Linked DNA regions of Homo sapiens. The protein of the gene in region 1 interacts with the protein of each later gene in a pairwise test. Each region holds a gene or a part of one and is shown in the gene's direction. Other genes may lie near its edges. The genes, in order: MPP3 and PKNOX1.

Region 1 (15,611 bases):
GTGGGGACTCCATATACTGTAAATAGCAGGATCAGCCTTAACACAACTATTCTTACTGTGCTCAAGGAGGTAAAAGTCAAGCTTGACATTTTTGGCAGGGAACTGGAAAGAACAAAAAGTGACAGCAGATTTGAAAAAAGCACAACATAAGAATTCTAGGACTGGCTGGGAATGGTGGCGCATGCCTGTAGTCCCAGCAACTTGGGAGGCTGAGGCTGGAGGATCGCTTGAACCCGGGAGGCGGAGGTTGTAATGAGCTGAGATCGTGCCATTGCATTCCAGCCTGGGTGACAGAGCAATACTCTGTCTCAAAAAAATAAAACAAAAATAAAAATAAGAGAAATAGGTAACAAAAGCCACAAACAATAGGAAAAGTTATCAGAAATCTCAAAAAACAAAACAAAACAAAAAAACCCCAAAACCCCAGTACAGTAATTTCCCTTCTCATTGAGAAGTAAATGGAGCTGAGCCTGCCCTTTCTCCACCCGCTTCTGACTTGCCCTCTTGCTGCATGCCTGGGCACTAGCCCATTGCTCCTCTTGGAATTATTTCTGGTTCCCTATGGTGTCTGGGCTGAATGCCAAATGCAATGACAATGCACACCTGTAGCCTGAAGCAGATTCTCTCTGTCACCTCTTCAAGGATCGTTGGCATTCTCTTTTTTTCCAGAGCATGCTTGGTAAAGTCTCTTCTCCCTGTCCAGATGGACCCAAAGTCATTCATTCCTCTGGCATTGAGCTCATCTTCCTGTTCCCTGTGCAGCTGCTCTAAACGAGCACCTTGACCGAGCCCTGGCTGGGTGAGGCGACTCCTGCCCTGAGCTTCCGGCCATCTGGGCCAACTCCGCCCTGGCTGCACCTGCCCTGTCCTATGATGCAGCCTCTCCCAGCACTCCTGCTCCAAGCTCTCATCCACCTAAACATCTCTCTCTGCTTCTCTTTTCTTCCATTCTGCTTGCCCAAATATCCTCTGGACTAAAGGACATGTACATATAATATTTTAACAAATATTACCAGATCGTGTCCCAGAAAGTTTGCACCAAATAATATTCCTTCCAAATGTGTAAATGTGTCTTTTCCCCACATCCTTGATAGCACTGGATGTCAACAGACTTAAACATTTTTGTCTTAACAAGGGACATTGCCTCCTATTTTGGCTAAGAATTCTTCGATTATGAGTGAGGTTGTGCATCTTTTGGATTTTTTTTCCTTTTTTTTTTTTTTTAAACAGGAGATCTAGCATCAGTTTTCTGTGTTTATTGGCTATGTATTTTTTGTATTAGACTATTTTCTTTGACCGTTTAAAATTTTTTCATCTTTTCTCATTTATGTAAACTCTTTTAAATTGAGGAATTTAACTTTATCATATTGCATATGATATCATATGTTGCAAATAATATTTTTACCTATAAAAATGTTTACCCTTTTTTAAATCACACATATCCACCTTTTCCTTTATAGATTTGGATTTGGAATTTACTTAGAAATGTTTCCCTCACTGCAGCCGGGCGCGGTGGCTCATGCTTGTAATCCCAGCACTTTGGGAGGCCAAAGCGGGCGGATCACGAGGTCAAGAGATCGAGACCATCCTGGCTAACACGGTGAAATCCCGTCTCTACTAAAAATACAAAAAATTAGCCTGGCGTGGTGGCAGGCACCTGTAGTCCCAGCTACTCGGGAGGCTGAGGCAGGAGAATGGCGTGAACCCGGGAGGCGGAGCTTGCAGTGAGCCGAGATCGCACCACTGCACTCCAGCCTGGGTGACAGAGCGAGACTCCGTCTCAAACAACAACAACAACAACAACAACAACAACAACAACATTAGCTGGGTGTGGTGGCGGGTGCCTGTAATCCTAGCTACTCAGGAGGCTGAGGCAGGAGAATCACTTGAACCCGGGAGGCGGAGCTTGCAGTGAGACGAGATCTCGCCACTGCACTCCCGCCTGGCCGCAGAGCAAGACCCCGTCTCAAAACAAAAGCGAAAGAAAGCTGTATCCCTACCTCACTTCTCACATCAAAATATTTTCTCAGTAAATTTATTTTTATAATCTTGCAGAGGAGGGCAGGTGATCTGCCCGCCTCCACCTACCGAAGTGCTGGGATTACAGGCATGAACCACTGCGCCCAGCCTTTTTTCCTCTCTCTTTTTTTTTCCCATAAAGAGTAGCTATTGTAATTGTCGCCATACCTTATTTTATTTTGAGACAGGGTCTTGCTCTGATGCCCGAGCTGGAGTGCAGTGGCATGATCACGGCTCACTGCAACCTCTATCTGCTGAGCTCAAGCAATCCTCCCACCTCAGCCTCCTGAGTAGCTGGGTCTACTTGCACATGCATCAATTTTTTTTAATTTTTTTATTTTTAGTAGAGACAGGTCTTGCTATGTTGCCCAAGCTGGTCTTGAATTCCTGGGCTCAAGAGATCCTCCCGCCTCAGCCTCCCAAACTGCTGCGATTACAGGTGTGAGCCACTGCACCTGGCCTGTCCCCACATTAAAAAAAAAAAAAAATTCCTCTCCTTCCACTTAAATGTCACCTTTCTCAAATATTAAAAGACAGTATACATGAGGACTATTTCTGTTCTTTCAATTCTGTTCTATTTGTCTAGCTGTTGATTGCCTCTTTAGTACTAAACTTTATTAATTCATTTTTTTTGAGACAGGGTCTTGCTGTGTCACCCAGACTTGAGTGCAGTGGTGTGGTCATGGCTCACTGCAGCCTCGAACTCCTGGGTTCAGGCAATTCTGCTTCAGCCTCCTGAGCATCTGGGACTACAGGTGAGCACCACTACACCCAGATAATTTTTGCATTTTTTGTAGAGATGGGGTTTTGCCATGTTGCCCAGGCTGTTCTTGAACTCCTGGGCTCAAGTGATCTACCTGCTTCGGCCTCCCAGAGTCCTGGGACTATAGCCTCAGTACTAAACTTTAAAAATTGTTTTCATATTTTTAAATCCCACCTCCCTTGGTCCCATAACTCTTTTTTTCCCAGAACTTTCCTATTATTCACCAATGTTTATTTTTCCTGATGAATTGTGGTAGCATTTAATAAATTCTCTGTGAAAAATACTTCTTATATTTTAATTGGAATTGCATTGGGTATAAAGATTATTTCAGAATGAATTAATATAATTGCACTATTGAACTGTTCTTTCCCTAGCCATTTGAGGTACATTTTATCTTTTATGTCCTTCACTAGAATTTTAAAGTTTTTTTCTCCCAAATATCAATAGGTCTTTCATTTTTCCTATTAAGTTTATAAATTGGTATTTAATCTTTCTTGATATCTTAGTTTGGATTTTTTCTTTCATTATACTTAATAATTATTTTTGTCCACAGGAAAGTCATAATGTTTTTTTTGTTTGTTTGTTTGTTTTTAAGACAGAGTCTCGCTCTGTCACCAGGCTGGAGTGCAGTGGTGCGATCTCGGCTCACTGCAACCTCTGACTCCCTGGTTCAAGCTATTCTCCTGCCTCAGCCTCCTGAGTAGCTGGGATTACAGGCACGTGCCACCAAGCCCAGCTAATTTTTGTATTTTTAGTAGAGACGGAGTTTCACTATGTTGGCCAGGATGGTCTCGATCTCCTGACCTTGTGATCTGCCCGCCTCGGCCTCCCAAAGTGCTGGGATTACAGGCGTGAGCCACCGTGCCTGGCCGGAAAGTCATAAATTTTTAATATCAATTGTATACTCTGCCATCTTAAATTTTTTCATCATTTCTTTCTTGTAATTTGTTTCTTTTTATTGGTGAGTAAATATGCCATTGTATGGATATACCACAAGTGAATGAATATTTATCCATTCACTTCTTGATGGACACTTGAATGGGATTAATGCCCTTATAAGAGAACTTGAAGGGAGCACCCTAGTCCCTTTGGCCCCTACTGCCACATGAGGACACAGCGTTCATCCCTTTATGCCCGTCTTTCTTTCTTTCTTTTTTTTTTTTTGAGATGGAGTCTCGCTCTGTCGCCCAGGCTGGAGTGCAGTGGCGCGATCTCAGCTCACTGCAAGCTCTGCCTTCCGGGTTCACGCCATTCTCCTGCCTCAGCCTCCCAAGTAGCTGGGACTACAGGTGCCTGCCACCACGCCTGGCTATTTTTTTGTATTTTTAGTAGAGACGGGGTTTTGCCATGCTGGCCAGGATGGTCTTGATCTCTTGACCTTGTGATCCACCTGCCTCAGCCTCCCAAGGTGCTGGGATTACAGGCGTGAGCCACCGCGCCTGGCCTATGCCTGTCTTTCTCTTCCACCATGTGAGGATACCTATCCAGTGCCATCAGTGAGGAACAGGCCCTCACCAGACACTGAACCAGCTGGCCCCTTGATCTTGGACTTTCCGGCCTCTAGAACTGTAAGCAATAAATTACTATTACTTCTTATAAATTACTGTGGTATTTTGTTATAGCAGCAGGAACTGACTATGACAGGTTTTAATTTGCATTTCCCTGATGACAAATGATGTTGGATGAGTGCTTTCTCATATGCTTATTGGTTATTTGTATATCTTCTTTTGTGAAGTGCATGTTCATATCTTTTGCCTGTTTTTTGATTGGGTGGTTTGTCTTTTTATTGAGTTACAGGAGTTCTTTATTCTGAATACAATCTCTTTGTCAGATATATTTCTTCCTAGTCTCCCAGTCTGTGGCTTGCCTCTTTTCTTTTCCTTTCCTTTTCTTTCTTTTTTCTTTTCTTTTCTTTTTTTTTTTTTGAGACAGGGTCTTACTCTGTCACCCAGCCTGGAGTGCAGTGTCACAATCATGGCTCACTGTAACCTCTGCTTCCCAGGCTCAAGTGATCCTCCTGCCTCAGTCTCCTGAGCAGCTGGGACTACTGGCACAAGCCAACATGCCTGGCTAGTTTTTGTAATTTTAGTAGATACCGACTGGGTTTTGCCGTGTTGCCCAGGCTGGTCTCGAACTCCTGGGCTCAAGCCATTCACCCGCCTTGAACTCTTAAAGTGCTTGAAGGGATTACAGGTGTGGGCCACTGCACCTGGTCCCTGGTCCTATTTTCTTAATAGTGTTTTGTTTTGTTTTGTTTTGTTTTGTTTTGTTTTGTTTTGTTTTGAGACGGAGCCTCACCCTGTGGCCCAGGCTGGAGTGCAGTGGCGCGATCTCCACTCCCTGCAACCTCCGCCACCACACCCGGCTAATTTTTGGTATTTTTAGTAGAGACGGGGTTTAACCATGTTAGCCAGAATGGTCTCCATCTCCTGACCTCGTGATCTGCCCGCCTTGACCTCCCAAAGTGCTAGGATTACAGACGTGAGCCACTGCGCCCGGTCTTTTTTTTTTTTTTTTTTGAGATGGAGTCTCACTCTGTCACCCAGGCTGGAGTGCAGTGGCCTGATCTTGGCTCACTGCAACCTCTGCCTCCCGGGTTCAAGCAATTCTCCTGCCTCAGCCTCCTGAGTAGCTGGAACGGACACAGGTGTGTGCCACCATGCCTGGCTAATTTTTTGTATTTTTAGTAGAGATGGGGTTTCACTGTGTTAGCCAGGATGGTCTCAATATCCTGACCTCAGATGATCCACCCACCTTGGCTTCCCAAAGTGCTGGGATTACAGGCATGAGCCACTGCACCTGGCCAATAGTGTTTTTTGATGAGCAGGAGTTTTAAATTTTGATGAGGTCCATTTATCAATTGTTTTCAGGGTCCATGCTTTTTTTAAAAATTTTTTCTTTTTTTAGAAACGGTGTCTCTTTGTCACCCAAGCTGAAGCGCAGTGGACTGATCATAGTTCACTGCAGCCTTGAACTCTTGGGCTCAAGCAATTTGCCTGCCTCAGCCTCCTGAGTATGTGGGATACAGGCTCATGCCACCATGCCTGGCTTTTTTGTATCCTTTCTAGGAAATCTTTGCATACCCCAAGATTTAAAAGATACCCTCCTGTTTTATTCTAGTAGCTTTATCGATTTGCTTTATGTTTAGGCCAATGATCTCTCTTAAATTGCGTTTTGAATATGGTGTGAGGTAGGGATTGGGTCCCTTCAGGCACATAAATATCTACTTGTTCCAACACCACTTCCTGGTGTTCTTGTCCAAAATCATTTGACCCATATCAGATGGATCAGATGGTTCTCATTATTTTTCCAACAGTAAACATTGCAGCTAAGAATGTGTCTCATGCAGTCTCTCTCCACTCAAAAAGTGTGGTCTGCAGACCAGTGGCGTCACATCACCTGGGAGCTTGTCAGAAATTCAGAATCTGGCACCACTCCAGCATTACACAACCCCCTAGTGAGTCTCAGGCACGTTACATTTTGAGGAGCAATAGTGTAGATATTTCTTGAGGAATGAGGATAATTTTTGAGGAATGAGGGGAAACATCATCATGACATTTGCTGCCTCTCACAGCCTCCCCATGCACTACAGCCTGTGGGGCCTGCCAACCCATTTTCCCTGGTTACTGTGCAGGGCTAGATTTACTTCCAGACTTAACCTCTGGGTCCACCTCTCCTGACATGTGCTGTGCCGTTCTTTGCTGCTGGGATTGAGGGAAGGGGGCCCACTCACTCACCCACTCCTCACCTTTTAATACCCACAACCACCTGCTCACTCACCCAGCAGTTCCTATGCTCTCCCCTATACACATTCTTTCACCAGGAACCTCAGTTTCCTCAATTGCAGAACCAAAATAAGAATGGTCTTGATATCAGGAACTACTGTGAAGGGAAGTGATCTGAGGAGTACCTGGGCATGGAGACAGCACAATATAAGTCAGTTATCGTCATGGCCATTTCAGAGCTCTTTTTCCAGTAAAGCCCCTGGATGCTGCTCGCCTCTGCTATGTAGCCTCACTCCCCTGCAGCCGGGCAGAATGGAGTCCCCCTCCTCTCCAGCCTGACTTCTCCTCCCCTGCTCCGCGTCCCCAGGGCAGCGTGCACCGATAAATCTTTCCCAGCGCGTTGCATTGTTACAGCGAGTTGCCCTCGCATCCGACCGGCCCCCCGCCCCACCTCTGGAGATCTTCAAACCCAGGATCTGTGCCTTGGTCGTCTTTGAAGCCCCGGCCCCTGGCACAGCGCCTGGCACCTGGAGGGCGCTCAATAAATGTTTGCAAAATCGAATTCTCTGTTGAGCAGGTGTCCACCCCTCCACTCGCGGAGGGTGGGTTGCGCGGGCGGAAGGGAAGTCTGGCTGTGTGCCAGGGTGCGGGGGGACACAGGCAGGGGACTCAGGGAGCGGGAGAGCGGGAGCGGGTACGACGCCGGCTAGCGGAGCCCGGCCCGGAGGGTGCGGCGGTGCCAGACGCGGAGGGCGGCCTCCGCTCCTCCCCCGCCTCCTCCCCGCGCCGCGCCTCCTCCCCGCGCCGCGCCTCCTCAGGCTCCGCCACCCCCGCCCGGCGCGGCAGCCGCAGGGAGGGGTCCGGGAAGGCGGAGCCAGCGGCGGCCCAGGCTCTGGGCACTCGCGCGGCTCCCGTTCGCGGAGCACACATCCCGGCGCGACGAGGTAGGAGGCCGCGAGGGGAACGGACGAGGGAGCTGGGCGCCGCGGCGGGAGGGGCGGGAGGCCGGGCCGAGACCCTCCTCCCGTGCTCCCGGACAGCCTCGCGGCCCACCGAGCCCACCGCGGGAGTCTCAACCCCGCCCCTCGGCCCCCGCCTCCCTCTTCCCGCGCCCGCCCCGCCGCGCGCCCCCCGCTCCCTGCTGCTCCGCGTCCTCCGGGACCGCCCTCCGAGGTCCCCCGGGGTCGCTGCTCCTGCGCCCAGTGCGCTCCTTGTTCTCCCACAGGTTCCTTCGGAGAGCGAGCGGGAGTCGGTGCTCGGCCTCCTGCGGGGAGCAGCCCGAGGGTGAGTCCGGCGTGGCGTGGCGGGGCGGGGCGGGGCGGAGGCTGGAGGGCCCGGGGCCGCTCTTACGCCTCTTAGTGGCACCGGGGCTCGGCGCTGCGGGCTGGCTCCATGTTTGCGGAATGAATCAGTCATGACTCTCCTTCTCCTCTTCCTAAGGAGGACTTTTTGAGGTCCACGTGCTGCAGAGCACCTTTGGAGGGCCTCATGAGATAGGGGTCCCCCCTCCTGCATAGTGGAAGCCCGACTCCCATTTCCCCCCCTCCTCTCTGCACTCCAGTCTGGAGGCTCCCTTTGGGTTGGGTCTTGGGGGGTCGGGGACAGGGGGCTTGTAGGCCCAGCCAGGTAGTTGTGGAAGGTGTGTCCCAGCAGGAGACTTGAGCCAGGGCTCTTAGAAGGTTGCAGTGGAGGGGGCGCGCTGCGGAGGACAGCTGACACTGTCAGGCAGGGTCACTTGGCACCTCCAAGGCCAGCCTGGAAGAGCCTGCTTGAATATGGATTTTGACCCACAGCTTACTGAAAGCTTCCACGCCGCTGTTTCTTCATCAATAAAATGGGAACATTCGCAGTCATTTCTCAGGACTTTGTGCAGACAAAAAGTTTATCATAGAAATCACCCCACACAATGCTTGGCACATCGAGGACACTCAGCACATCTTAGCTTTATTTCCTTCCTCTCTGAAAAAAGTAAGCAGAGTTATTTGTTCCCATCCTCTCTGTCCACAGCCTGGTCTCAGAGAACACAGTAGATGTGTAGTCAGTTTGTTCAATAAATATGCTTGATGGAGCTTCAATACCCACCTCCACCCCCTTCTCCCAGAATCTGCAGGGAGAGGTCGGGAGGTGACAACGCCAGCATGCCAGTGCTATCGGAGGACTCTGGTAAGTACCTCCCCCCGGCTGGACCTGCCACAGTCCTGAAGACAAGAGCCTGCCTGGCAGCCTCCAGGCCCTGGCAGTGAGAGCCTGGGGAGAGAATGTCCTCACGGCAGGACTGAAGTGCTGTTTGAGGCCCCACTCGGGCTCCTCGGGGGCAGGGAGCACCCACTGCGTTTGCTATCCTTTGTTTTTCTCACCTCTCCCCAGGTTTGCATGAAACCCTGGCCCTGCTGACCTCCCAGCTCAGACCTGACTCCAACCACAAGGAGGAGATGGGCTTCCTGAGGGATGTTTTCAGTGAAAAAAGCCTCAGTTACTTAATGAAGGTGAAGTCCCACGTCATCCTGCGTGGAAGGGTGTCTAGAGGTCTTTCTAGCTGTCTGTGGCCGTCTGAGGTCATCCTAGTCATCTCCCTGCCCCAGGAAGGCCTTCACTTGCCCACTACACAGGACTTTCTCTTATGGTGCCCTGTCAGTGGCCCAGTCTGCTGCCCCAAATGTCCCCACAGCCGTGGGTGGGATGTGTGGTGTCCAGGGTGCATCTGAAATACTCTGTCTTTGCAGATTCATGAGAAGCTTCGCTATTATGAAAGGCAAAGTCCAACCCCAGTTCTGCACAGCGCTGTGGCCCTCGCTGAGGACGTAAGCCCCAGGTTTCTCCTTACAGTGTCTGCCCCACTCCCCACCCTGTAGGGCTCCTTCATCTTGCCTCGCTTGCTTAGTGTGGGGACACCGGGAATCAGGAGCCCAAAGGTGAAGAGGTGTTTTCTTCCCTTGTCCTCCTCCTTCTCTTCCTCTCTCTGGGTTCCCCGAAAGGTAGGGAGGAACCCGTGAGCCTTGGACTGGGCTGGGAGACACTGTGACATGGAGCTGCCCACTTACTGTGTGTTCTTTAGCAAGTCTGCTTCCTCTGCTGTAAATGAGAGCATTGGATTGGCTCAGCAGTTCCCAAACTGCCCTGAGGACTGGTGATTTGAATAGGTCAATAAGACATTATGTCTGTGCTTTCCTGAAGTCAAGGGACCTACAGTGTGTCCCCGCATACTGGCTCAGGCTTCTCATTTTTTAAAGGAACGCTTCTTAATTTCTTGTGGACCTAGTCGTCTATGTTGCGTGGTTGGGGAAAACCCATTCTGGTTGATTACTAAGATCAGTTCCTGAATAAACTCACCTAACCCCAGGAGATGGCCTGGGGAGGGATGAGTGCAGCTTGTGGGTGCAGAGCCCTGGGCCCTTCTCCACTGTGGAATGTGATTAGGGGCACATTAGATTGCCTGGCTCCCAGGCTCAGCGCTGCCTGTCCCACCAGCTCTGTGATGTTAAGTAGGCCACTCAACCTCTCTGAGCTCCCATTTCCTCATTCATAAAATAGCATCTGAGAGCCAGATAAGCCCAGGTTCAAATCCTAGCTGTGCTGTATATGAGCTCTGTGACTTCGGGCAAAATGTTTAATCTCTTTGAGTCTCAGGATTCTCATCTGTAAAATGGCAAAGTAACAAGACCCTCTGCATCAAGTTGGTTGCGAGGGTTCAGTGAGAAGATCCACATAAAGCAGAAAGCACGTAGGGCTTAAAACGGTGGCTCCTTGGAGGATGGCCCCATAGAGCTGCTCCTGACCCCTGGTGTGATGTTCCCAGGATCATCGTCGTCGGGTGGTTGAGGGTCTGGTGTGCCCCTGGGGGCTGCAGCTGGGTGGGCCCTTCCAAAGAGGAAGGACCCAGCAGATATGGGGCAGGGGCACCTCTAGCCATCAGTGGCGCCTGTCTCATTCTCTGCAGGTGATGGAGGAGTTGCAGGCCGCCTCCGTGCACAGTGATGAGAGGGAGCTGCTCCAGCTGCTGTCCACCCCGCACCTGAGGGTAGTCACACAGAGCCCCTGCCCAGCCATGCCTCTGGGTCTCCTGGGATGGGGGCGGAGGGAGCTCTCCTAATGAGGCTGAGGAGTGGAGACTGAGGGAGCGATCCTCAGCACTAGTGTCTGGGCAGTTGTCTCTCTGGCATGGCGTCTGCCACCCTCCATACCACCGGCCAGCTGCGGCCTGCTGACCCTGTGAGCGGCGGGCCAGCCTTCCTTTTCTCTGGCTTTCCCGGCAGGCTGTGCTCATGGTACATGACACGGTTGCCCAGAAGAATTTTGACCCCGTTCTCCCGCCTCTGCCTGACAATATCGATGAGGATTTTGATGAGGAATCGGTGAAGATCGTCCGCTTGGTGAAGAACAAGGAACCCCTGGTAGGTGCTGCTGCCTGCCCCTCTCTAACCCACTCTTCCCCTGCCTCTCACCCCCACCCAGAACACTGGACAAGATCCTCCCCGAAGTCTTCAGAGTGAGTGACGGCAGCTTTGCCTGCGCTGCTGCTCATCCCTGTGGTGCCTCTGTGTGCAGGGCACCCCTTTCTCTAGGTGGATACAGCCCCTCTCAACTGTGGCCAACACCCTTTGTGTAGTTAATAACCTGCACAATTGTACAGGGTGACCCTGATCATGCTTTAAGCCAGAAATGGACAAACTACAGCCCAAGGGCCAAAACCAGCCCACAGCTTATTTTTTAAAATAAAGCTTTTTTGGAGCACAACCAGGCCCATTCACTTACAGATTGGCTGTGGCTGCCTTTATAGTGCGATGGCAGAGTTGAGTCGTTGTGACAGAGACTGTGTGGCTGGCCTCAAATATTTACATGTGGCCCCTTATAGAAAACGTGTGACAATGCCTGCTCTGAATGTTGAGGAAGCACAGGGCATTCCTCTCCCCAGCAGACAGACTGCTATCACTTTGGTCCTGGTTCAGCATTGATTTACCGAGCAAAGGGACAGCGTTGTTTATGAGATGCTCAGAAGTGGTGGAAGCCCAGAGAATTGAGATTGGCTCCAGAGGATCCCACAGCTGGCATTCTCTATTTCCAACTTTCCCCAAATGACCTCCGACGAGCCTCTTCTGCAAACAGACGAGGATCTCTCCTCTGCCTCTGTTTCCTCACTTGTAAAATGGAGTGGCCATCCATTGATTTAGCAAACACATTGTGAGCCCTCCTATCCAGGCTCTGTATTGGGTGCTGGCGGTTCAGAGCTGAATAAATGATGGATAGCGATGCTGGAAAGTTCTCAGTTCTGGGGGGCTAGAAGTCCTGAGGTTCTTAGCTGATGGCCTCTCTTTCTAGCAATAATTATCTTACGTACTTCAAATAGATGGCACAGATGATGTTAACAATAAGTGTGCAAATGTGTTTGCAGTTACAGCCACTAATAAGTGGTTAACATATGTTGAGTGCTTACTGTGTACTAAGTGCCTTGAGTGGAATCCTTGCAACAACACTGTGAGTTAAATGCTGTCCCACATCTCACAGGAAACAGGCTTGGAGAGGATAAGAGATTTCCTTGTTAAGTCCACATGCTTTTTGTAAACGGCAGAACTGTGTTCACACCCAAGGCTGTCCAGCCCTAGAGCTTAGCTCTTAAGCTTTCTGCCGTCCTGCTGCAGTCCGGCCTGTGTGGTGCAGGAAATCGAGGGCTCGTTAGTGCCTTTCTCATCCTAAGTGTCATCTCTGCTGTGCTTCATGGGCCAAGTCCTGGTCCCGAAGCCCTGGCTGGGGTGCATAATTGGTTTCCCTCAGCAGCAGCAGAAGGCCCGGTAACCCTGTGATTGGGTAGAGGCAGGGTGAGAATTAGCTGGCACGTGTCATCCTCATTATTAAATGTCTTTGCAAGTGGTAGGAACTGTGATATGAGAGAGATGTGATGGAGAACTTACTGGATTTGGCATCACAAAAAGCTTTCCCCTTTACCAGCTGGGTGACCTTGAGGATATTTAACTTCTCTGAGCCCCAGTCCCTCATCTAAAATGTTGCAGCATTATTGTGCCTTGTAAACTGTACAGTGCAGGGCTATATTAATGGGGGATGTTGGTTTTGTTTTGTCTTCAGCATTGGGAAGGTCCCCACTGATCTCTCTGGACTGTCAGAGGGAGGGACTGGGGAGGCTGTGTTGGGTCCAGAGAGTAGGGGTCTGAGGTTTGGAGCTGCTGCTTAAGAACCTGTCTCTTCTGTCTCGGGTTCAGGGTGCCACCATCCGGCGGGACGAGCACTCAGGGGCTGTTGTGGTGGCCAGGATCATGCGAGGAGGCGCAGCAGACAGGAGCGGTGAGTGGCGGCAGTGCAAAGCTGGCCCAGCCCCGATCATGGCCATTGTTCCAGAGCCCTCCACCTTTGCTAATAGGTCCCCTTACCTCCCTCCTATCAGGTCACCTGTTTGGGATTTGCTTTGCTTTCTGGGGTTGTGGCTGGAATTCTCATCTCCTTCCCAAGTCAGTAGAAATTTTAATAGAAAATATAGGCCAGCTGGGCATGGTGGTGCACACCTGTAATCCCAGCACTTTAAGAGGCCGAGGCAGGCGGATCACTTGAAGCCAGGAGTTCCAGACCAGCCTAGCCAACATGGCGAAACCCCATTTCTACTAAACACACAAACCTGGGAGGCGGAGGTTGCAGTGAGCCAAGATCATGCTGCTGCACTCCAGTCTGGGCAACAGAGTGAGACTCTGTCTCAAAAAAAAAAAAAAAAGAAAAAAAAAAAAAAGCCAGGCACAGTGGCTCACGCCTGTAATCCCAGCATTTTGGGAGGCCGAGGTGGGCGGATCACCTGAGGTCGGGAGTTCGAGACCAGCCTGACCCACACAGAGAAACCCCATCTCTACTAAAAATACAAAATTAGCCAGGCTTGGTGGCACATGCCTATAATCACAGCTACTTGGGAAGGCTGAGGCAAGAGAATCGCTTGAATCTGGGAGGTGGAGGTTGCAGTGAGCCGAGATCGCGCCATTGCGCTCCCGCCTGGGCAACAAGAGTGAAATTCCGTCTCAAAAAAAAGAAAAAAAGAAAAAGAAAATATAGGCCATGCACGGGTGGCCCACACCTGTAGTCCTAGCTGTTCGGGAGGCCCAGGCAGGAAGATTGTTTGAGCCCAGGAGTTTGAGGTTGCAGTGAGCCGTGATTACACCACTACACTCTAGAGTGGGCGACGCAGTGAGACCGTCTCAAAAAAAAAAGAAAAAAAAAAAAAATATATATATATATAAATAGTCATGGAGTACTTTGGGGTGATTGAGAAAAAGCTCATGCGTTGGTTTAGTCCAAGGACTGTGACAGTTAAGAATATAGCATGGGCTTGCGGGATTACTAACTGTGGGACAGGGTTGACACCCTTCCCCACCATCCCAGGTCTTGTCAAGCTACTATTACAAAGAGAGTGTTTGTGCCCCAGATTCGTTTGGGTAGAAAGGTTGAGAATCACCGGTGTGTGGAAGAGCTACTAAGCTGGGAGACAAACCTCCTGGTATAGGGCGATGTTACCCCCAAAGTCTGGGGGGTCATCGTTGCAGAGAATCCTAGACCAGCACTTTGCAAACATTAACGAGTCCACGAATTCCCTGAGCATCTTGTTAAAATGCAGACTGATTCAGCAGGTCTGAGCTAGGCCGAAGATTCTGCACTTTTAACCTGCCTCCAGGTGATGCTGATGCAGCCGGGCCAGTGCCCACTTTGAGTAGCATATAGGGCCCTAATATGCAGAGACATTAGTCATTCAGGCAGAGGCTCATAGTGTGTTTACACTCTTAATGATGTCTTCATTGGTGCCTTTGTCTTTCCTTGTTAAGACTTAAGAATGCCATTCTAAGAGTTAATGATAATTTTAAAGAAGCAGAGATTATAGCAAAAAGAACACAGGCTTTCTACATCATAATAACTGTGTTTGAATACTGGCTTCATTATTTCTCAGCAATGTGGCCTTAGGCAAGCTGCTTAATCTTCCTGGGTCTCAGGTGCCAACTTGTAAATTGGAGATTTTACTGGGTGATTTGAGCCCTGCATGCCGAGTGAGGTGCCCAGCACTTAGCAGGGCTTAGTTCGCCCCAGTCCCACCCATCAACTTTAAACCTCGAGTTGGCCCTGCAGTGGGCTTCTCAGGCCGGCCCCTGTGGTGCTTGGAGCTCTGAGCGAGGGGTGCTCAGGTCCTCCTCCTGTGCTGATGGTCAGTCCCTGTGTCTCCTAGGCCTGGTCCACGTTGGAGATGAGCTCCGAGAAGTGAACGGGATCGCAGTCCTGCACAAGCGGCCCGACGAGATCAGCCAGATTCTGGTCCGTGCTACAAGCCTGCTAGGGATGTGCTGGGTCTTCAGACACCCAGAGCAAGGCACTTCCTGGAGCCAGGACAGATTCTGGCTTAGCCTTGCTGTTGTCCTGAGGAGGTGGCAGGCAAAGTGGCCTTATGGTGTGCCCCTAACAGTGTGCCCGGGGTATGGGGTGGCAGCAGGAGGAGGGGAACTTCCCTTCCATCTGCCTCTCTTAGACCTTCTCCTCAGCACAGCCTTCCTTCCTTCCCCTGGTTCCCTTTCACAAGGCCCCTCCTGGGTCCTGGGTCCTGGGTGTGAATCCTGGCTCTGCCTCCTTCCAGCTGTGCAACCTTGGACAAGCCATCAGATCATCTGAGTTTCCATTTCCTTTCCTTTAACGTTGGGATAGAGTTTCTTTCTCAACCAATGTGTGGTTATCATTGGCATGCTAACATCTGGAAAAGGGTAAAGCCCTTCAGAAGTGTAAGGGGATTTTAAGGTATAAAATGCTTGGCTGAAAACCTCCATGGTCCATTCTGGGGAGTTGAAGTCAAAACTGAAATTGTGAAAAGCCCCAATCATAGCTTGGTCCCCTTTATCCTCAGGATTCCTCCCCTGACCTGACACTCTGCTAACTTCTGATGGTTTTGGGGGCAGAAACAGGATGAGATCTGAAAAGAGGAGGCCCACTGTTTAAAGCCCTCTCTGGGCTGGGCTCAGTAGTTCACACCTGTAATCCCAGCACTTTGGAAGGCCGAGGCAGGTGGGTCACCTGAGGTCAGGTCGAGACCAGCCTGGGCAACATGGTGAAACCCCGTCTCTACTAAAAATACAAAAAAT
Region 2 (14,889 bases), on another chromosome or scaffold:
TGAGGGCTCTAAGCAGTCGGGAGGTTTAGTGAAGGATAGGAAGTCAAAAGGCAGCATGTTGGTATATTTACACACATTGCGATTATTACAGCCAATCAGTATATGTATAACATAATGATAGAACAACACCAAGTGGTGGGATTGGGTGAGTACTCTCCTTTCAGGTTTCCTTTAATGTTTTAATAATTTCTCAAACAATAAACCCTGCCCATCATGTCCAGTGAAGACGCCGCGTTTTTTCCTGTGGGGCGTCCTCAGTCCCTCCTCACCCTCGTTTCTTGGCAGCGCCGACCCCCTGTAGTTTCCCGCATACTCTGGGGCAGCATCTCTGGCTGTTTGGTGTTTTCTGCTTGTGTGCTCGTGTTTCCTGCCCTGTTTCTATTTTATGAGCTTTTTAAAGGGGGAGAACAGTATTTCTGTTTCCATGACCTTGAGCTCAGAGCCACACACTCATTGATGGAGTCAAGTTGAGTCACACTGCCGTTAGTTTGAGGAAACAAACCCATCACTGCTGAGGCACATCTGAGGCCGCTCCGTCCCCATGTGATGGGCAGGGGTGTTTCCACGCCGCACTCAGTGTTCCTTTCACGTCAAAGCCAAAGTAAACTCTCACTGCTGACTTTGCTGGTACCGTTCATTCTCTTGGGTCCTTGTTGATCCCAAATCAAGGGCTTTAGTGCATTCAGGTTTTAGAGTAAATGTCGTGTTGGTTTCCACATATAGACAGTCATCAACCTTGGAGAAATTATTTACCATAGCTAGAAATCATTTTCGGTTGGTACTTCTGTGAGTTTTGCTATCTAGTTCTGATTGGATTTTTTTTTTTTATTTTTCTGCACTCCCAGGCTGGAGTGCAGTGGCGCGATCTCGGCTCACTGCAACCTCCGCTTCCTGGGTTCAAGCAATTCTTCTGCCTCAGCCTCCCGAATAGCTGGGACTACAGGTGTGTGCCACCATGCCCGGCTAATTTTTTGTATTTTTAGTAGAGATAAGGTTTCACCGTGTTAGCCAGGATGGTCTTGATCTCCTGACCTCGTGATCTGGCCACCTTGGCCTCCCAAAGTACTGGGATTACAGGCGTGAGCCACCACACCTGGCCAGATTTTTTTTTTTTTTTCCCAGATGGCCAGGCTGGTCTCGAACTCCTGACCTCAAGTTATCCACCTGCCTCAGCCTCCCAAAGTGCTGAGATTACAGGCGTGAGGCACCGCGCCTGGCCCTCTGGTTGGATTTTTTGTATGTGAAATGTTTCAATCATACATAAAAGAAGAATACCATAGCAGGCACTCCTGTCACCAGCCCTGGGTTCAGTTCCTTACTGACAGCACAGGTGAATCCAGCAGAGATCTCACCCCAGGAAAGCCGTCGATGGCATCAGCTTATCCCAGTGTCAGTTGATTCCTGTGGTACCCATGATGGAAATTTGTCCCCCAGCCTGCCTGGCCATTTCCTACTCCACCTGTTTCACCAGCTGTGGGATGGGGGCAGTTTGTAAACACTTCATGCCTCAGTCTCCTCTTCTGTAAAATAAAGACACTGACAGTGACTGTCTCAGCAGGTGCTTCTGAGGAATCAGTGAATTATTATAGAATGGACCAAGGTAATTGAAATGTGCTGTGTATTGCTTGTGGCAGAGGCTCCCGGGCCAGAACGCATCCACCCATCCTCTTTATATGGATGTAGTTTATTGTTCATAAGTTAAAGTTCAATAAAGTTGATAAAGAATCTATAGATTGTATCAAGCCTGGTGTAGACTCACCGCTGGACTGCATAGCTGCTCCTCATGATGTCGCTGCTGTTATCGTCACCGCTGAACCGTTAAACGTGGGGGGCGGTCTGCCTTGGCCTATGCACTAACCAGCCACTGCAGCACTAGGACATTCCTGGGACGAGGAGAAACACTTTGTTCGTGAGACTACAGTTAGGTTTTGGCTAGAAGCACTGTTGACGTGACCATTATTTTCTAATGATTATGTAATGCTCACATTTTGCCTAAATCGTCTTGATTTCCTTTGTAAACTCGAAGGCCATGGTAACCTTCTTTTTTTATTTTCAGCATCCCTACCCAACAGAGGATGAGAAAAAACAGATTGCTGCTCAGACAAATTTGACACTACTCCAAGTCAACAACTGGTAAGGTGCCCTGCTTCCTGAAATCATGCTGTCAGCACGGTAGAGCACTTGGAAACCCTGGCACCAATACATGGTGAAATCTTGCTGAAAATAGGAGGTCTCTCTTTTTCTTTTTTCCCAACTGAGACGGGGTCTTGCTGTGTTGCCCAGGCTGGTCTCGAACTCCTGGCCTCAAGTGATCCTCCCACCTCAGCTTCTCAAAGTATTGGGATCATGGGTGTGAGTCACTGCACCCGACTAAAAATATGAGTTCTTTTAATGGGCAATGGGAGCAGGAGACTTAGGAATAAACCAGGTTCAACCTAAGTTTTCATATCAATACCTCATTATGGACTGCATCCTGCCTGCCTCTTTAGAGCTGTTTCTCTAGGGTGCTACTGTCCCCAAGCCCCACATTCATACAAAACTGTGATGTGTTGTTAGTGGATGAGCCTCTGGATGGTGGGAGGCCAAGAGTGAGAGGTCCTGCCCCATGAGGGGACCCTCTGCCACTCTTTCTTGTGGGGGTCCTGCTCCACAGAAGAGTCTGGGAGCCATTCCTAGCAAAGAAACACCCAGGAGGACATTTCATAAAACGTCCCCTTCTAGTCCTGCTGTCAAACATTGCTGTGGACACTTAGACTCTGGCCAGATGTATTTTCTTCAGTAAGGGCTTGTGCGTGTTCCTAGGTGGCACTGAAGTGGGGGGTGGTCTTCCATTTTGGTTATTAGTCACTTGTCACATTTTTTAAATTTACTTATTCAGATGTAGGAAACAGTTTCAGCTTAATAAAACTGGCATGCATAAAAGAAGAAAGCACAAATTCTTCCAGTTGTAAACATTATTATCTTTATCTTAGCTGTGCTAAAATGTGAACTTGTTGAAGTTCCAGCAAGAAAGTCTTTGTCTTTGTGCAGTCGTGTGTGCGGGAGGTATGCTTCGGGGTTGCATAAGTACTTCCATGATCCTGCATTCTTGCCATTCTTTTAGATGTGGGTAGTCACAACAGACTATACTATTTGCGTTATTTCCTGTTAAATCTTTTAAATAGAATATTAACAAAAATTTAAAGATTCTGAGTATGTTGTTGCTGCAGTGGTTGTTATATTCTGCTCATGTGCTTGTTTTCCTGGAGCTATGTGGAAACCACATACTTTGGTTGGGGCACACCTGTGGTGGGTGGGCTGAAGTGGGAGGGATGCGTCTCTGGATGTGCTGGTGCCCCGTCACTGCTCAGCACCCTCCTGCTTTTCTGCATTCATGATTTCCTGGTGTTCCCTGACTTGCTACTATGTTACATTAACGAATTGTCTTATCTAGGTTTAGTATCAACTTTTAATTTTTAGTAATAATAACAGTTTAATAATATAACTTAAAAATTCCAAATTTCTGAAATCTTTAATATTTGTAGCTACTTTTACTTTTTGTGACTTTCTTTTCTTTTGTATTTACAAACATTACATCTTGGAGTGAGATACACACACCCATCATTAGTTCATGCCTCTGCTGGTAGCAGCTTTGAATAAGAATGATTTAAAAACACATTACAGGCCAGGCGCGGTGGCTCACACCTGTAATCCCAGCACTTTGGGAGGCCGAGGTGGGCAGATCACGAGGTCAGGAGTTCAATACCAGCCTGACCAACATGGTGAAATCCTGTCTCTACTAAAAATAGAAAAATTAGCTGCGTGTGGTGGTGCACACCTGTAATCCCAGCTACTGAGGAGGCTAAGGCAGTAGAATGGCTTGAACTCGGGAGGTGGAGGTTGCAGTGAGCCCAGATCGCACCATTGCACTCCAGCCTGGGCGACAGGGTGAGACTCAGTCTCAAAAAAAAAGAAAACAACCAACACATTACAGTAGCAGTGGGGCCTTCCCTCCCAGGTCTCGCTGGGGTTGTGGGTGGCCATGGAGCTTGTGCTGCAGGGATCACCAGGTTCCTCTAAATGAAGCATGGCGGGATCCGATCTGCTTCATTATTATTAGACTGTGTGCTAATATAATTGTAGATATTTTTAAATCTTGGACTTTTAAAATTAAGCAACCTTAGAGCTGATCCAGTTCTAGTGTTGTTGTTTTGCAGAGGGGGGCATTAAAAAAAGAAAGAAGTTGTCACAGTGACAAACCAGAGTAGAATCTGAGTCTAAAAGTAATGCTTTTGTTTCCCTGATATCGTGAACATGGCTACTCAGCTATCCAGATAGAGAAGTCTGGCTTTTAATAGATGAGCAATGTGTGACTCTAGCAAGAGGTCAACTACTTTATCATTCATGTTACTGAAAAAAGAAGACAGAAACGAGGCCTTAAGCATGGTTGGTATTGCTGCTTTTGCGTTAGGTTGGGGTAATGCATGAATCTGGACGGGTTCTGGTTTGATAGGCGCTTTCACGGGACAGATGTTGTTTTTCTTTCCGTTTCTTTCCATTTCAGCTCTTTTTGTAGCAAAGTGGCCCAGTCAGTGGCATAGGGTGGTGGGTGCAGCAGAACGCATGTCTGGTTTGCTATCTTTGTCCTCTAGTCACTGCAGGAGGAAAAGCTGGCCTAGGGATTTGAGTCTCCTTGCACTTTCTCACATTTAAAGGCAACAGCTCATAGCATAAGAATGGGAACTGAAGACAGCAGCCTTTAATCTTAATGTATTTTGAGATTGCTATCATACTCATTTGATATGAAACAATGTCCAGCCTGCCTTGCCAACCTGTGACTGTTGGGCCAGGTGCAGTGGCTCACATCTGTAATCCCAGCACTTTCGGAGACCAAGGCAGGCAGATCACAAGGTGAAGAGATCGAGACCATCTTGGCCAACATGGTGTAACCCCGTTTACTAAAAATACAAAAATGAGCTGGGCGAGGTGGTGGGCGCCTATAGTCCCACCTACTCAGGAGGCTGAGGCAGCAGAATCGCTTAAACCCAGGAGGCGGAGGTTGCGGTGAGCTGAGATCGTGCCACTGCACTCCAGCCTGTGCGACAGGGCGAGACTCCATCTCAAAAATACAGAAACAATGTCCAGCCTGCCCTGCCAGCCTGTGATTGTTGCTGCTCTCGTTCTCTGTGGAGTCTTATCACAGGCGTGAGTGCCTGGTCTGACAGAGTCGCCAGCGTCTGTCGGGGATTTCATCACTGCTGGTGCCTACGTGCTGTGCTGGCCACATGTCTAGGACCACTGGAGGACTTACGCCTCCAGTCATCTAAGAAACAGCTCATCATTGGGAATGGTTTTTGAAAAGATGCAGCTCTTGCCTTAGATCGTGCTTTGTGGTGAAACAAGAGGAGGTGGCAGTCCCATTCTCTGATGGCTCAGACACGTTGCCACCCAGAGGCTCGGCCCCGTTGGTGATCTGGTGACGTCCAGACGAGTGCAGACTGCCCGATCGTCTCAGGCATGATGGCACTACAGAAAGTCTTGCTTCTTTAACATTTTTCTTCCTTAGGGAAAACAGTGTCAGATTCACAAATTCAACAGTATCATCTATGTCGTTATGAGTATCTAGTTCACAAACATGCCCTAAAGGAGTTGAGACAAAAAAAAAAATGCCATGGACGAGTTGGTGCTTATTTGCATGATTTTTAAAACAACAGGCTCTGTGTTTCTGGGCATTTAGAGAATTCAGAAGAGCTGTTGAGTCCTCTTAAGTAGTTACTATAGTGGAGAACTTGAGTCATTCTTTGTAGCGTGCTTCGTAGAGCAGCGTGTTTGTTAGAAGGATTTGTTAATCCTGTATAGGGTCTTTACGAAGGCTGTTTTCATGGAAGCTTCTCTTTGTTGACTCCAGGTTCATCAATGCCAGAAGACGAATTCTTCAGCCAATGTTGGATTCAAGTTGTTCAGAGACCCCCAAAACAAAGAAAAAAACTGCTCAGAACCGGCCAGTTCAGAGGTTTTGGCCTGATTCTATTGCATCAGGAGTCGCACAGCCACCGCCGAGCGAGCTCACCATGTCGGAAGGTACAGGTGGCCGGCCAAGGCCAGACATGGTGGACCATGGGGTGGGGATTATGAACAAGAGGCCTGGATCAGGCCTGTTAGCTGTGAGCCTCAGGTAATGTGGTGAACGAGAGTGCGTGGTTCTCTTTCTCTGCAACTAAAACATGAGGAAGCTGCATTCTGCGTGCACGGGAGCTCTCAGTAAGAGTTAGGAGCACCAGTAGTAGAGAATGTAAAACACGTGATAGAGATATGAAATCATTAATTCTGTCTCAAAGACACAGTCATGCCCATGGATCTTCTCCTTTGCTTCTGTGTTTGCTCTCCTTTTCCCTCCGACGCCGGGTGTGGAGGAGGGACTTACCCCGTTCTCACCACGTGGCTTCTTTCTCTTCATCCCCCATGCCCTTCTCTTGTTTTTGCTTGTTCCCTGTGGCCTCTGCTCTCCATCCCCTGACGTAGGCAGCCATTCTGATGTGTTTTATAGGCATCTTTCTGTTCGCATGAGGTCTTCATATTTTGGATGGTTTTGTGTGCATGTGTTTTTATTTTTTTTTATTTGTTTGCTTTGTTTTTTTTTTTTTTTTTTTTTGAGACAGAGTCTCACTCTGTTGCCCAGGCTGGAGTGCAATGGCGCAATCTCGGCTCACTGAAACCTCTGCCTACCAGGTTCCCGCCATTCTCCTGCCTCAGCCTCCCGAGTAGCTCGGAGTAGCTACAGGTGCCTGCCACCACGCCCGGCTAATTTTTTGTATTTTTAGTAGAGACGGGGTTTCACCGTGTTCACCAGGATGGTCTTGATCTCCTGACCTCGTTATCCGCCTGCCTCAGCCTCCCAAAGTGCTGGGATTACAGGCATGAGCTACCGCGCCCGGCCCAGAAACAGTTTCTTAAATCCCTGTTGAACATTCCCTAAACATATATAGGTGTTTTATTTTAACTTTAGGTCAAACGAGCAAACAGCACCCAATTGAGTAATAAAGTGTTTTTCTGTGAGTACTAATTTAAATAATGACACACCTTCATCCTGCCGCAGGAGCTGTTGTCACCATCACCACGCCCGTGAACATGAACGTGGACAGCCTTCAGTCTCTGTCCTCGGACGGGGCCACCCTGGCGGTGCAGCAGGTCATGATGGCAGGGCAGAGCGAGGACGAGTCTGTGGACAGCACAGAGGAGGATGCGGGTGCCCTGGCCCCTGCCCACATCAGCGGGCTGGTCTTGGAGAACAGTGACTCCCTGCAGTAGGGGCAGGAGCAGACGCACCTGACTTTTTGGAGTTTGCACAGCAAACATTTTACACAGTTTTATTTCTAATATGTTTTATATGTAGATATAGAAGAGTGCACTTTTGTATTTCATAGTAAGCTTAAAGCGCGTCTTTGCCGGTGCAGCGACTTCTTTCAAGTGTGTGTGTGTGTGTGTGTGTGTGTGTGTGTGCGTGTGTGCGTGTGTGTGGATTTTTAAAGAAATTCTTTAAAGGTTTAACGCTAGATTGTGAGGAATGACACACCACTCCCTCCCCACCTTGAATCCCTAATTAGATTAAGGAATAGCGCTGCCATTTTCTAAACCGTGATGCGGTTGTCACTTAGTTCTGTGGTTCCAGCAGATCTCAGTGGGCTGGTTGATTTGTGTGGCCCATGGATTTGAAAGAAGCTGCTGCACCCGAAACTGCCAGTGTGCGGTGACAACGGCACACGCCTAGACTGAGTGTGGTTTCGTCGTGAGTGGATGGACGGCAAGCTTAGCAAGCCTAAGTCCCCTCATGTTCAGTGAGCCTGTTTCATTTGCTATATAGAAAAAGAAACTCCTATTTTTACCTTGCTGGAATTATTGGATAAAAAAGCTATTTTTATAAATTCGTTATGAATTGGATGATGACTATATTGAGGATAAAATTTCTAGAGAAGAAACAATACATGCTTGCTATTAATATTTCAATTTGGAATGTTCTGAATTGACCAAATTTAATGAACCTGCCCAAAGTTAGCTACCGTTCCATGGTTCTTTGCTCTCCCCGGGTAGTGATGAACATTTACTACTATAAAAGAAACAGCTATTTAATGAAATTTTGATATCTGCAAATTTTTGTTGATATGTAATGCTCAGATTGCATTTTACACTTGATCTAAACATATATCGAAAGATATCTGCTAAACAGGACTTCAGGTAAGTGAGGTGAAATGGTAGCCAGTGACCCGTTAGGAGCTCTCACCGTACATACTCCAGTCTAATTTAAATCTGACCACAGTTGCATGGTCGCTTTACCATGTTAGCTGTGTATTGTTTTAAAAGTTTTAACTTCAAAATATGTTATGCACAGAATGTTTATTATAAACTAATATAAAATGTGCTCTACCCCATTGGCTCAGAGCTAGGGCAAACAGCAGATATTCAGACTTTATTACTTAACTAGCGGACATCCCTGGAGTCCCAGCAGCGAGCTGGTCTGGCGAGGGCACCTCGGCAGCCCCCACGGGTTGGCTCCTACGTTTGCGTTTGTGGCTGGTCTCCTGGTGTCAGTGTTCTCTTGTACGTTGTTGCTTTCGACTTTTCAGAGCCCTCCTGCTCACTTGACCACGTGAGATTTGGAATAACTGTAGGACTTCTGTTTCCTGGTAACAAGATGAACCGAGAGAGTGGGCTGGGTTCTGTTTTCTTTGGTTTTGATTTGTTTTCATTGTTTACTTAGGAGTGGTGCTTTTTCTCAGAAAACAGGCCACGGTGTTTCATACAGAATGTCTTCATATCATCTGAAATGGTATGGCTGAAGTTCATTTGTTTACAGGGTCGGGAATGTCTTCAGTTCTTGAGAGTCAACAGTAATGATTGGTTGTAAGCCAAGGGACATTTTAAGCTAGTGAAGAGTTTTTTCTGGAATTGATTTTTCCCAAAAGAATATATTAATTGAGGTTAAGAAGTCAGTGGGAAACACACAGAAATTTGTTTTAAAATCTTTCAGGAGCTTTACTGAAAGACTTGGTTATCAAGTCTTTTGGGGAGAGAATGACATTTTTTTTTTGAGACAGAGTTTTGCTCTTGTTGCCCAGGCTGGAGGGCAATGGTGCAATCTCAGCTCACTGCAACCTCCACCTCTTATGTTCAAGCAATTCTCCTTCCTTAGCCTCCTGAGTAGCTGGGATTACAGGCATGCGCCACCACACCCGGCTAATTTTGTATTTTTAGTAGAGATGGGTTTCTCCATGTTGGTCGGGCTGGTCTCGAACTCCCGACCTCAGGTGATCTGCCTGCCTCAGCCTCCCAAAGTGCTGGGATTACAGGTGTGAGCCACCGCGCCCGGCCGAGAATGACATCTTAAAGCCACCATTGCGTTCCTCATTTGTGAACTGTCTTCTCATATTTTAAGTCAAGTCTATAAGATCATTTTTAACCTAAGTTCCAACTTTGTTGGACTCCTTAAAATAAGCACCCATGAAAGCCAGCCAGCCCTTCCTCCTTCCCTCACCACCCTCCGTCTCTTCGGCTGCTTGCTCTTTAGTGTAGATTAGTGGAAGCCATTCACAGAATGTAGACTCATGTATAGGTCACCGTTTCTTTCCCCCACTAGAAATCACATTCACTAAGCAGTGGATTGAATTTAAGAGTGCTGCCCCTGCCCGGCGCAGTAGGGCGTGCCTCTAGTTCCAGCTACTCGGGAGTCTGAGGCAGAGGATGGCATGTGCCAGGAGTTTGAGGCTGCAGTGCACTATGCTTGCACCTGTGAATAGCCACTGCACTCCATCTTGGGCAACACAGTGAGACCCCCATCTATAAAAAGAGAGCACTGCCTGAACCTCGGTGGCACTGGGAAGCTCTGGCCTGAGAGTTAAACACCCATGCTGAATGATACAGTGTGCATTCTCTCCAGCTGCAAACTTTCTTCAACTTTCCTAAATTCTTACTAAATTCAGAGGAATAGGATAAAGATCACTTAGAGAAAGGGTGCTTATGGACATAGCCTGAGTTTCCTTTAACCTCTCTGCAATGGGTGCTTTTAACTAGCTTCTACATGGCAAGCTGTTTCAGTTTGCAAAATCACTGCCCAGCATGTTTGAGGTCAGTTGGCACCTTAAAACACCTGTTCTCCAGCCCTTGGACAGTGGAGAGAATCTGTAAAAGTGTGACCCCCTCTAAGATTTCGTTTTAAATGATCAGATTCGGTTCCAGTTTTATTCTTGTTGAGTTTTTCCCTATGAAGGCTCCTTTTGAATGTGTCTTGAGACCCAAATTGAGCATGTTGCTGTTATTCCTGCCCTGCACCTGTGGAGCAGGAGTGGCAGGGCTGGCTGTGCTGGGTTCCAGCTCGCTCCCACCGAGGGACTAGCTTGGCCTTTGCGCTTTGATTCCAGATAGTAAGATGAGTGGAAGTGTTTATCGAGCATGCAAAAGAAACCCTCACGGCTAAGGGCTCTGGGAGTTGTGTCTGTGTGACCTGAGAGTGATCCATCTCCTGCCTGTGTGAGGTAGCAGTGGGCACTTTTCATTGAGACAAACTCCAGGGTGTCCAGAGGGGGTTCTGCCCCTTGTGAAGGCCCATTCCTGGCACTTAGAGACAGAAAGAACTCAGCAATCTTTCGTTCTAGTTATATTCGGTCTTTGAAACTGACAATCTTTGAAATGTGAATACTGTAACAATATGTTTTCTTGGATTGTTGTCTTTAAAAAGGATTTTTGTGAAGCAATTGATTTATCAAAGCAAAAAAATTAAAAATAGAAACTTGCTTTATGGATGTTTTATTTTATAAAGCTCATGTCACCAAAAGCTGCTTCTCCATTTTATGTAAAACATTGAGAATGTTTTCATGTTTTCTGGTGACATGTAGGGTCTGTAGTCACCCCTGCATATTGAGAAACTAGGACCACACTGCATCGGACTAGTCAGGTCCATTTACATGTCCAAGAATCTTTTCTTAAATTCCTTACTTTGTTCATTCATTGGCTGTTCAGGCAGAAAATGGAAACAGGTAGCTTTTATGTTTTTTATTATAGTTTTCCACAAATCTAATTATTTTGATAGTTACAAGAAGATAATGATTCATCAGTAAGCTAACATAATCCCTTTCATAGTTCATATTATAAATTTTCATGACAAGAAAGTTCCTGAAGATTTAAAAGGTACATTAAAACAATTTCAGAGGGTTTTTAATCTTTGTTGTCCAGAGTGTTATAACTCCCAACAACTGTTCATGCTTAGAGGCTAAAGTCAGCAGACTTAGTATTTTAAAAACCACATGCAAAATTATGAGTCTTGTTGGTAATTAGTAGTGACAGCTGACTGTATTGTTTCAAGCAATGTTTTCATTGGTTACAGAAAACTGAGGCACTGTGTTGTATTTCCAGCTCCCTTAGTTCAGAGGTGAGAGGACGGGCATGAACTTTATTAATGTGGGGCCTCAGGCAGCCCCAGTCTCTCTAGGCTTCCAGGGCTTCATTTATGAAAAGGAAGAACTGGCTTATAAGGTTTATTCTAGCCTTACAATGATGTTTATGACTAATAAGATTCTATCTCTCCATCTAAAGACTGATGAGGAAGTGAGTAATGGTCTAGCAAATCCAGAAAATAAGAAATATTTGGATTAAATATTTAGTGTTTCACAGTTTTTGAATTATATGAATGTCATAAACAATGTCTACTGTTTTTAGCTTTCATGCCATTCTATTATGTATACTCTCAGAAGAAATTCTTAGTACAAGGCCGGGCGCGGTGGCTCCCGCCTGTAATCCCAGCACTTTGTGAGGCCAGGGTGGGCGGATCACCTGAGGTCAGGAGTTTGAGATCAGTCTGGCCAACATGGTGAAACCCCATCTCTACTACAAACACAAAAATTAGCCAGGCATGGTGGCAGGCACCTGTAATCCCAGCTACTCGGGAAGCTGAGGCAGGAGAATCTCTTGAATCCGGGAGGCGGAGGTTGCAGTGAGCTGAGATTGTCCCACTGCACTCCAGCCTGGGGCATAGAGCGAGACTCTGTCTCAAAAAAAAAAAAAATTCTTAGTACAAATTATTTTTGCCCTTGTACAGTGGGATATTTTTACCTTCACTAAGACCTAGGATAGTTGTTTAACTATCATTGTTTATAAAATCTGCGAGACTAGTGACTATATAGCATCTAAGCACATGTGACTGAAAGCAGTGAATGCCCGGGGTGGCATCTGGGCCTGGGGCCAGCTTTTCCCAATCCCACGTCTTCACCATGCAGCCCAGGTCGGGTCTGGCACCTGCAGGCTCCTCTCTGCCAGGCCTCCTCAGGTCTGGCTTTTGTAGTCTATAAAGGACTAGTTAGTGTTGCTTACTTGGATAATTTGTAAGTATTCTGTATAAAAATCGTATTTAGAAGGTATTATCTTATACAGATGTTTCCATTCTTTATCTCCCACAGCAACCCACACTCTCATGGCTTCTGCTGCGGGAAGCGCTCCTTCCTGGGATTCCCTGGCACAGTTCAGATGAGTATTTCTCCACCTTCACTGGCTGCTCTCCTCTAGCTCCACAGTCTCTACAACCCAGGTCTACACTAACACACAAGACAATGTAAACTGTTAAGGGCTTCACAACTTATTTCTGACATGGATTGCTGTGTTAAGATAATATGAAAGAAAACTCAGTGAATATAAAGTAAAATATTTTAAAATATAACTGATTTTTCTACAGGCCATTTTCTAAAAATGTCTAAGCAGCTAAGGACTTCAACCCTGTAAAAAGCAAGAATGGTTTTAATATAAATCAGGAATTCTAGACCGGGCGTGGTGGCTCACACCTTTAGTCCCAGCACTTTGGGAGGCCGAGGCAGGCAGATCACCTGAGGTCAGGAGTTTGAGACCAGCCTGGCCATCACGGAGAAACCTGGTCTCTACTAAAAATAAAAAAATTAGTCGGGCATGGTGGTGGGTGCCTGAAATCCCAGCTACTCGGGAAGCTCAGGCAGGAGAATCGCTTGAACCCAGGAGGTGGAGATTGTAGTGAGCCGAGACCACGCCACTTCACTGCAGTCTGGGCGACAGAGCAAGGCTCTGCCCCAAAATAAATAAATAAATAAATAAATAAATAAATAAATAAGGAATTCTTTTATTCCAGCATCTTTCAAAAGAAACATTTTAGGCTGGGCGCAGTGGCTCACACCTGTAATCCCAGCACTTTGGGAGGCCGAGGCCAGTAGATCACAAGGTCAGGAGTTCCAGACCAGCCTGGCCAGTATGGTGAAACCCCGTCTCTACTAAAAATATAAAAAATTAGCCGGGCATGGTGGTGCATGCCTGTAGTCCCGGCTACCCGGGAGGCTGAGGCAGGAGAATTCCACGAACCCGTGAGACCGAAGTTGTGGTGAGCCAAGTTCACACCACTGCACTCCAGCCTGGGCGACAGAGCGAGACTCCGTCTCAAAAAAAAAAAAAAAGAAAAGAAAAGAAACATTTTAATGACAGCTTTAGTTGCTTAGACATTTTTAGAAAATGGCCTGTAGAAAAATCAGTTATACTTTAAAATATTTTACTTTATATTCACTGAGTTTTCTTTCATATTATCTTAACACAGCAATCCATGTCAGAAATAAGTTGTGAAACCCTTAACAGTTTACATTGTCTTGTGTGTTAGTGTAGACCTGGGTCATAGAGACCGTGGAGCTAGAGGAGAGCAGCCAGCGAAGGTGGAGAAATACTCATCTGAACTGTGCCAGGGAATCCCAGGAAGGAGCGCTTCCCGCAGCAGAAGCCGTGAGAGTGTGGGTTGCTGTGGGAGGGTAGATGGCAGGAGGACATGGGGCTGGGCAGCCGGGAGGGACTCGTGGCCTGGGAGACAGCAGTGAAGAGGAGAGGGGAGAGCAGAGGCAGGCGCCATGGGTTCTGGGCATGGCCGTGAGCCACTGGAAGATGATACGGGAGCTTATCTTTGTTCCCTTGGGGAAGAAGCCCTTATTTTGAGACCTCAAAGGCATAAATCCTAAGGCAAAATATGGGTGATTTGGCCAGATCAAAATTCAGTTTTTCTGTGCATTGGAGGACACAGAGGACCATTAACAGGTAGTGACTGAGAGGAGCACTTTCCTCGTTCCTTCTTTTTAATGGATAAAGCCGGCAAGGAGCCAGTGTTAGGGGGATTCCTGCAACTCAGCAGGTAACCAACTAGAAGTCTCTAGAACCATGACAGCGGATATTAATAGTTCATTGAAAGGAGACCAGATGACCAAGCAGCACGTGAAGACTGCACGGCCTCGCCACGCCCAGGGAGTGTGAGCTGGAGCCCAGGGGCGTGCCGCCCCGTCTGCCGGCCGCAATGAGGAAGCTGGGATTGGGGATCTGCAGAAACGGGAACTTGCGTGGTGCTGGCGGGAATATCACGGGGCCAGCCATTCTGGAATGAACCTGACAGGACAGTCATGTGTCACTTAACAATGGGCTGTGCTCTGAGAAATGCCTCTGTAGGGGACTCCATCCCGTAGGAACATCACAGCGCACTCACACAGCTCACTGTACACACAGCCTGTGCGGCTTAGCCTATTGCTCCCAGCCATGGGCCTGTGCGGCACGTGACCCTGCTGACTACCCTGGGCAATCGTAACATAATGTAAGGATTTGTGTGTCTAAACAGCTAAATTGGCCGGGTACTGTGGCTCACGCGTGTAATCCCAGCACTCTGGGATGCTGGGGCAGGCAGATCACTTACGCTGAGGAGCTCAAGAGCGGCCTGGGCAATAGAGTAAGACTTCATCTCTACAAAAAAATGTAAAAATTAGCCAAGCATGGTGGCTCATGCCTGTAGCCCCAGCTACTCAGAGGCTGAGGTGGGAAGATGTCTTGGACTCAGGAGGGAAAGGTTTCAGTGAGCTGTGATTACACCACTGCATGCCAGCC

What was found.
Region 2: the proteins of MPP3 (region 1) and PKNOX1 interact in binary tests that used the Homo sapiens proteins (3 or more experiments, as listed by UniProt).

The regions. Positions count from the first base shown.
Region 1 is NC_000017.11:43,824,941-43,840,551, reverse strand, and holds the start of MPP3 (MAGUK p55 subfamily member 3), read left to right. Parts: upstream 1-7,405; 5' UTR 7,406-7,451; intron 7,452-7,732; 5' UTR 7,733-7,791; intron 7,792-8,300; exon of another isoform or gene 8,301-8,475; intron 8,476-8,514; exon of another isoform or gene 8,515-8,570; coding exon of another isoform or gene 8,571-8,645; coding exon 8,646-8,670; intron 8,671-8,874; coding exon 8,875-8,993; intron 8,994-9,230; coding exon 9,231-9,308; intron 9,309-10,420; coding exon of another isoform or gene 10,421-10,444; coding exon 10,445-10,525; intron 10,526-10,760; coding exon 10,761-10,898; intron 10,899-12,719; coding exon 12,720-12,801; intron 12,802-14,710; coding exon 14,711-14,796; coding exon of another isoform or gene 14,797-14,929; intron 14,930-15,611. UniProt on the Homo sapiens protein: Participates in cell spreading through the phosphoinositide-3-kinase (PI3K) pathway by connecting CADM1 to DLG1 and the regulatory subunit of phosphoinositide-3-kinase (PI3K). Stabilizes HTR2C at the plasma membrane and prevents its desensitization.
Region 2 is NC_000021.9:43,022,815-43,037,703, forward strand, and holds the end of PKNOX1 (homeobox protein PKNOX1), read left to right. Parts: intron 1-2,056; coding exon 2,057-2,133; intron 2,134-5,887; coding exon 5,888-6,060; intron 6,061-7,075; coding exon 7,076-7,287; 3' UTR 7,288-11,117; downstream 11,118-14,889. UniProt on the Homo sapiens protein: Activates transcription in the presence of PBX1A and HOXA1.